2 linked regions of the Homo sapiens genome follow. The protein of the gene in region 1 interacts with the protein of each later gene in a pairwise test. Each region holds a gene or a part of one and is shown on either strand. Other genes may lie near its edges. The genes, in order: CNPY4 and AIFM2.

Region 1 (3,688 bases):
ATCTGTATCCCCTGAGGCCCTCCAGAGGTTATCTGCCCATCATCTCACCATCATGGAACTCACCCTTGAATCTCCAGTAGTTGACAAAACTGAAATGGCAGAAAGGGGAAGGGAGGGGTGGGGTGGTGAGCTGGGCTGATGCCAAATTCTTAATCTCTCAGGGTCAGAGTCAGACCATGGCAACACTGAAAGGCCTAGTGCAGAAGGGGGTGAAGGTGGATCTGGGGATCCCTCTGGAGCTTTGGGATGAGCCCAGCGTGGAGGTCACATACCTCAAGAAGCAGGTAGGATAAGACACTGCACCATCCAGGGAGGTGAGAAGGGAACCTGAGAGGGGAGCTAGGTTCTAGGGTTTGACTATAGGGGATGTCTACCCCTAAGCATGGGGAAGGGGCCAGAGTGAGGACTGTGCCATTGATTAAAGTGGGTCCAGGAGCGGTGGGGTGCGGTGGCTCACACCTGTAATCCCAGCAATTTGGGAGGCTGAGGCAGGTGGATCACCTGAGGTCATAAGTTCGAGACCAGCCTGGCCAACAAGGCAAAACCCCGTCTTTAATAAAAACACAAAAGTTAGCTGGGCGTGGTGGTGCACGCCTGTGATCCCAGCTACTTGGGAGGCTGAGGCAAGAGAATTGCTTGAATCCAGGAGGTGGAGGTTGCCATGAGCCAAGATCGCACCATTGCACTCCAGCCAGGGCGACAGAGCAAGACTCCATCTTAAAAAAAAAAACAAAAACAAAAACAAAAAAAAAGAAATCATAATGAGCCGGGTGGAGTGGCTCACAACTGTAATGCTAGCACTTAGTGAGTCTGAGGGAGAAGGACTGTTTGAGACCAGAGTTAGAGACCAGCTTGTGCAACATAAGAGACCCCCTTCTCTACAAATAATAATAATTTTAAAGAATTTTTTTTTTCAAGACGGAGTTTCACTCTTATTGCCCAGGCTGGAGTGCACCGGCACCATCTCGGCTCACCGCGACCTCCGCCTCCCGGGTTCAAGCCATTCTCCTGCTTCAGCCTCCCGAGTAGCTGGGATTACAGGCCCCTGCCACCACGCCCAGCTAATTTTTTGTAATTTTAGTAGAGACGGGGTTTCATCATGTTGGCCAGGCTGGTCGAACTCCTGACCTCAGGTGATCCACCCGCCTTGGCCTCCCAAAGTGCTGGGATTACAGGCATGAGCCATTGGGCCCTGCCTTAAGGAAAATTTTTAAAAAGTAATAATGGGCCAGGTGCGATGGCTCACGTATGTAATCCCAGCACTTTGGGAGGGCGAGACAGGCGGATCACGACATCAGGGGTTCAAGACCAGCCGGGCCATCATAGTGAAACCCTGTCTCTACTAAAAATACAAGAATTAGCCGGGCGTGGTGGTGTGGTGGCATGCATCTGTAGTCCCAGCTACTCAGGAAGCTGAGGCAGGAGAATCACTTGAACCCGGGAGGCGGAGGTTGCAGTGAGCTGAGATCCCACCACTGCAGTCCAGCCTGGGTGACAGAGCGAGACTCCATCTCAAAAAAAAAAAAAAGTAACAATGGTTGCTAATGATATCCACCATCACTTATTGAGCACCTACTGTGTCCCAGACTCTGGACCAGATACTTTGCATCTGTAGCCTCATTTTACCCTTAACAGCCTGATGTGGTAGGTGCAATTACCATACATATTTTACAGGCAAGGAGCTGAGACTCAAGAGTTTAATAATCTACTTGGCAGAATAGGTGCTGGTAAATGTTTGTTGAATGAATGAGGATTGCACATCTAGTAGGCCAAACTTAGCTTCCTGGCTACCTGCCTCTCCAAAATCAGTCAGGTTGAGCAGGGAGAGAAGACAGGCGGGATCCCAAATCCCTCCAGAGCAGATACTCTTCTGGCCCTTCTACTTGACCAGTGTGAGACCATGTTGGAGGAGTTTGAAGACATTGTGGGAGACTGGTACTTCCACCATCAGGAGCAGCCCCTACAAAATTTTCTCTGTGAAGGTCATGTGCTCCCAGCTGCTGAAACTGGTAAGCGTAAGGGTTGAACTCCTCTCCTGCCAAGCCATAGCCTCCCCTGCCTCCAGGACTAATATCTAAATTGTTTTCTGTCATCCGATCTAGCATGTCTACAGGAAACTTGGACTGGAAAGGAGATCACAGATGGGGAAGAGAAAACAGAAGGGGAGGAAGAGCAGGAGGAGGAGGAGGAAGAGGAGGAAGAGGAAGGGGGAGACAAGATGACCAAGACAGGAAGCCACCCCAAACTTGACCGAGAAGATCTTTGACCCTTGCCTTTGAGCCCCCAGGAGGGGAAGGGATCATGGAGAGCCCTCTAAAGCCTGCACTCTCCCTGCTCCACAGCTTTCAGGGTGTGTTTATGAGTGACTCCACCCAAGCTTGTAGCTGTTCTCTCCCATCTAACCTCAGGCAAGATCCTGGTGAAACAGCATGACATGGCTTCTGGGGTGGAGGGTGGGGGTGGAGGTCCTGCTCCTAGAGATGAACTCTATCCAGCCCCTTAATTGGCAGGTGTATGTGCTGACAGTACTGAAAGCTTTCCTCTTTAACTGATCCCACCCCCACCCAAAAGTCAGCAGTGGCACTGGAGCTGTGGGCTTTGGGGAAGTCACTTAGCTCCTTAAGGTCTGTTTTTAGACCCTTCCAAGGAAGAGGCCAGAACGGACATTCTCTGCGATCTATATACATTGCCTGTATCCAGGAGGCTACACACCAGCAAACCGTGAAGGAGAATGGGACACTGGGTCATGGCCTGGAGTTGCTGATAATTTAGGTGGGATAGATACTTGGTCTACTTAAGCTCAATGTAACCCAGAGCCCACCATATAGTTTTATAGGTGCTCAATTTTCTATATCGCTATTAAACTTTTTTCTTTTTTTCTAAAAACTAGCTGGGCCCAAAGTTTCAAACAACAGCCGGGCACACATAGCTAGCTGGTCGATGAGGCAGCACCCAGAATGGCCGCTGTCTTGTTAAGCTCAAGCTCCAGCCTGAGCAACATAGTGAAACCCCAATTCTACACACACACACACACACAAAGAAGACTGCAGGGCTGGTGGTGCAGCGCCTGTAGTCCCAGTTACTGCAGAGGTGGAGATGGGAGGATCACTTGAGTCCAAAAGGTCAAGACCAGCCTGGAGGCTGGGCGCAGTGACTCACACCTGTAATCCTAGCACTTTGGGAGGCCGAGGCAGGCGGATCACCTGAGTGTAGGAGTTCGAGAGCAGCCTGGCCAACATGGAGAAACCTCGTCTCTACCAAAAATACAAAAATTAGCCGGGCGGCTGGGCGCGGTGACTCACGCCTGTAATCCCAGCACTTTGGGAGGCCAAGGCGGGTGGATAACAAGATTAGGAGATCGAGACCATCCTGGCTAATACGGTGAAAGCCCGTCTCTACTAAAAATACAAAAAATTAGCCGGGTGTGGTGGCAGGCGCCTGCAGTCCCAGCTACTCGGGAGGCTGAGGCAGAAGAATGGCGGGAACCCGGGAGGCGGAGCTGGCAGTGAGCCAAGATCGTGCCACTGCACTCCAGCCTGGGTGATAGAGCGAGACTCCGTCTCAAAAAAAAAAGCCACGCATGGTGGTGGGCGCCTGTAATCCCAGTTACTCGGGAGGCTGAGACAGGAGAATCGCTTGAACCCAGGAGGCGGAGGTTGCAGTGAGCTGAGATCACGCCACTGCACTC
Region 2 (3,813 bases), on another chromosome or scaffold:
ATTATGATGAGTGATTGATCTAGTTACATTCATTCATTTTGATGTATGAGGGTTCTATAGGGAAAAACCAAACTGTTTTTCTCCCTACTCACTCCACACTTCTGGGATAAGATGTGTGGGTTTTTCCCCCACTGACCAATTCTCTGACACCAGCTGGGTGTCCTACGGTTCAATTCAATTCTGACACTACCTGGCGTTAGCGCAGACCCCACAGGTCAAGGGCTCAGTCCCACGATCCTGCCCCGACTTCAAACACCAGTTGCAAGTCCATAGGTCCCCAGCTTACCCACGCTTCTGTCCCACTTGGCTACAAGATAGAGATTCTCATGACTCTCTCCTTGGGTTAAATAATTTGCTAGAGCAGCTGATGGAAGCCAGGGAGACAGTTTACTTGCTGTTGCTGATTTATGACGAAGGATGTTTTAAAGGATAAAAATGAACATTCAGATGAAGGGGCACATAGGGCGTGGTCTAGAAGGGTCCTGAGCACAGGGGCTTCTGTCCCCATGGAGTTGGGGTGCATCACTGTCCTGGCATGTGGACATGTTCACCAACCTGGAAGCTCTCTGAACCCTGTACTTTAGGGATTTTTATGGAGGCTTCATCAGGTAGGCAAGGTTGATTATGACCTCAATCTCCAGCCCCCTCTCGTCACTGGAGCTGAAAGTTCCAGACTTCTAAGCTGGCTTGGTCTCTCTGGTGACCAGCGATCATCCAGGAGCCCATCAGGAGTAGCTTCATTAGAACAAAAGATGCTCCCATCACCCGGGAACATCCAAGGAGTTAGGAGCTCTATGTCAGACCCTCCCATCACTCAGGACATTACAAAGATCTCAGGAGCTCTGTATCAAGAACCGGCAATGAGGACCAAATATTAGAACAAATGATTCTTAGTACCCCAATTTACAAGGGTTTTAAGAGCTCTGCATCAGGAACTGGGGGCAGAGACCAATATATACTTTTCTTCTTATTTCACAGGGGTCAGACCAGTCTGAAGTAGTAAAAAAGTTCAAGTAACTCAGTAAAATATCCACATGTTTAGGATTTGTAGACAGTAAGGGTAGTAGCAGCCACCCTTTATTAAGGACTTAATATGTGCTGAGTTACATGCTTTGTACGTATTTTTTTGCTCATCATTACAAAATTCCTATGAGTGGGGCTATTGTGCCCATGTTAATGAGCCTTTGGGAGGTGTCCAAGTGAGTATCAGAGATGGGATTTCAACCCAGGCAATTTGATACCAAAGCCCAGGCTTTGAACATGATTGCAACATGAGGTGCCCGGGACGCTTCCCTGTGTTGTCCCAGACAGCAAGTAGACATGCCTGGAAGCACTAATTTTAAACAAGCTTTAATGTTGACATCAGTCTGATTGACTGTTGGAATGCCCATGGCTTGTATAATTATAAGTGCCCAAGGATGCTTGAAGATAATTTTCCAGGTGGCCCTAGGTGAGGTGTAGGTTGTGACATGTTGGCATATTGGTAGTCCTCTGGCCTGGGTGTGGCAGGAGGGTACTGAAAGAGTCCTAGTCTAGAACATGTGGGCTTAAGCCCAGCTCACCACTAATTGGTCCTGGCATTGGACAGATTACTTCTCTGGAGCTTCAGTTTCCTCATCTGTAACCTGGAGGTATGAGTGGAGGTGGACGTTCGTGCAATGATTGTGTTTGAAGACTTGGGGGCTCCTTCTCAGGCCCTGTGGTCGTTTTGTCCTCAGGTCACTCTCATTCACTCCCAAGTGGCCCTGGCTGACAAGGAGCTCCTGCCCTCCGTCCGGCAGGAAGTGAAGGAGATCCTCCTCCGGAAGGGCGTGCAGCTGCTGCTGAGTACGTGCACCCTCACCTCCCTCCCTGCCCTGCCCTGGCCTGGTGAGATGTGGCTTGGAGGCTTGGTGACTGCTTCCAGCAGGAGGGTGGCTATGGTCCACCCCAGGCTCTCTCTTTTCCACTGTGTCCTGGGGTGGAGCATGAAGCGCTCAGAAGAGGCCGTGAACATCAAAGCCCATCTGAGCCTTGTCCAGCTGGAAGTTGTGCCCGTCCCTGGGCAGGGAAGAGGGCCTGGTACTTACGGGATTTCCATGTCCTGGTTATTGCTTTGGATGCAGTGCAGATGGTGGGATGCCTGTCTGCTGAATGATTTTTCTTGAGTGCATCTGAAGGATTTGCCCCAAATAGGATGTCTCTGTGGTTGAGGGAATAGGTTTATTGGTTTATGTTTTGAGAGTGGTGAGGAGTGTGGCCTTCTTGTAGAGCAGGGGACGAGACCCACCCAGCAAATGCTGGAAAGTGAGGTTCTCTTCCAGCGCTGTGGCCCCTACACTTCACTGCATGGGGCCCCAGCCCCCTCACTGTTTGCGGGAGGGTGAGGCACCTGTCCTGTGAAGGGCCCGCATGGCTGCCTCAGCCTCCTTTTGGTAACTGGCTGTGGAGTGCTGCCGTCACTGTCACTTTAGGCAGTGAGTGTAGCGAGCTGGCTTCTCTTTCTCTGGCTTTCCCCTTTGTCGTGGTGCACTTGGAGCGCTCGTCCTGCCTAGTTAGGATGGCACGGCTGGCACTCATAAGAGGCGCGTCTGAGATCTTCCATTAAACAGCTTTTCTGAGAACTTCTTGGGAAACAGCCTCGCTTCCCTCCAGGGGCTTCTTGGAACTTTTCTCCAGAGGGACCCCTCGGGGCCAGATGTCCAGATCAGCTTTGTGGGGCATAGAGTGGACTGAGGGAGGGGCATGGTGGGAAGACAGGGTGCAGCCATTGCCCAGTTGGGCCCCAGAGGTCCAGGCCCTCCCCAGGGTTAGCCTTGGCCTGGGGTCCAGGCTTGATGGGGTCCCTGTCCCCACCAGCCTCCTGGTCATGAACCCCCTTCTAGGTGAGCGGGTGAGCAATCTGGAGGAGCTGCCTCTCAATGAGTATCGAGAGTACATCAAAGTGCAGACGGACAAAGGCACAGAGGTGGCCACCAACCTGGTGATTCTCTGCACCGGCATCAAGATCAACAGCTCCGCCTACCGCAAAGCGTTTGGTGAGCAGGTGCCCAGCCGGGCTTCCCCTGTGCCTCCTTGCTCTCCAGTACCCTCTGAATGCCCTGCAGTGCTTGCCCCCAGGAGTCCACACCTTGCTGCCTTCCCCCTTTCTTCCCAACAGCTCAGACTTTAAATTCAGTGAGGGTCCACCCTTGCTGAGCTCTCCTCAGCTGTGACCATGGCTCGGCCCCAGGTGGCCAAGGTGACCAGAATCTTCTGAAATTAGGGCCGCCCCCTAGTGGTAAGAGATGGGAACAGGCGTCAGAGAGATGACAAAGGTTGGTGGTGTTTCTTTCCCCCTCACCTGAGGACAGAGGAAATTCAGGGTCAGGCCTTCCTCTCTTGGCAGGCGTGCTGCCGCCCCCAAACCCAGATCAAAACATTTGGTCTCTTGAGCTTGGATTGACTGGGGAGTGGGGTTGGTAACATGGCCTCGTTTCTTAAAGCTCAGTATTTGCGTATTTAGCTGGCTGGAGGTGGCAGAGGTGGACTGATGTGTGTTTAAGCCTCCATTTGTGAGCAGGAGACTCAGTGGCCAGGCCTGGTGGTTGCTTTGTGTCCTCAATTCCCTGTCATTTACTCCCAAATGCCCTTCCCTGACAAGGAGCTCCTGCCTTGTGTCCAGCAGGAAGTAATGATCCAATCCCAGGAAAAGGAAGCCAGTCCAGGCTGTGTGTAGCAGTGGGATTGAGGGCTTATAATGGACAGAGATCCCAGAATTTAATACCAAATTGTCCTAATGTTGTATTTTCAAATACAAGTTTTTAAAAGTCCCTTTAAAAAAGCAGTTTGCCA

The links.
Region 2: the proteins of CNPY4 (region 1) and AIFM2 interact in binary tests that used the Homo sapiens proteins (3 or more experiments, as listed by UniProt).

What each region holds. Positions count from the first base shown.
Region 1 is NC_000007.14:100,122,623-100,126,310, forward strand, and holds the end of CNPY4 (protein canopy homolog 4 precursor), read left to right. Parts: intron 1-161; coding exon 162-284; intron 285-1,891; coding exon 1,892-2,009; intron 2,010-2,102; coding exon 2,103-2,266; 3' UTR 2,267-2,886; downstream 2,887-3,688. UniProt on the Homo sapiens protein: Plays a role in the regulation of the cell surface expression of TLR4.
Region 2 is NC_000010.11:70,115,826-70,119,638, reverse strand, and holds part of AIFM2 (ferroptosis suppressor protein 1), read left to right. Parts: intron 1-1,718; coding exon 1,719-1,827; intron 1,828-2,864; coding exon 2,865-3,017; intron 3,018-3,813. UniProt on the Homo sapiens protein: A NAD(P)H-dependent oxidoreductase that acts as a key inhibitor of ferroptosis.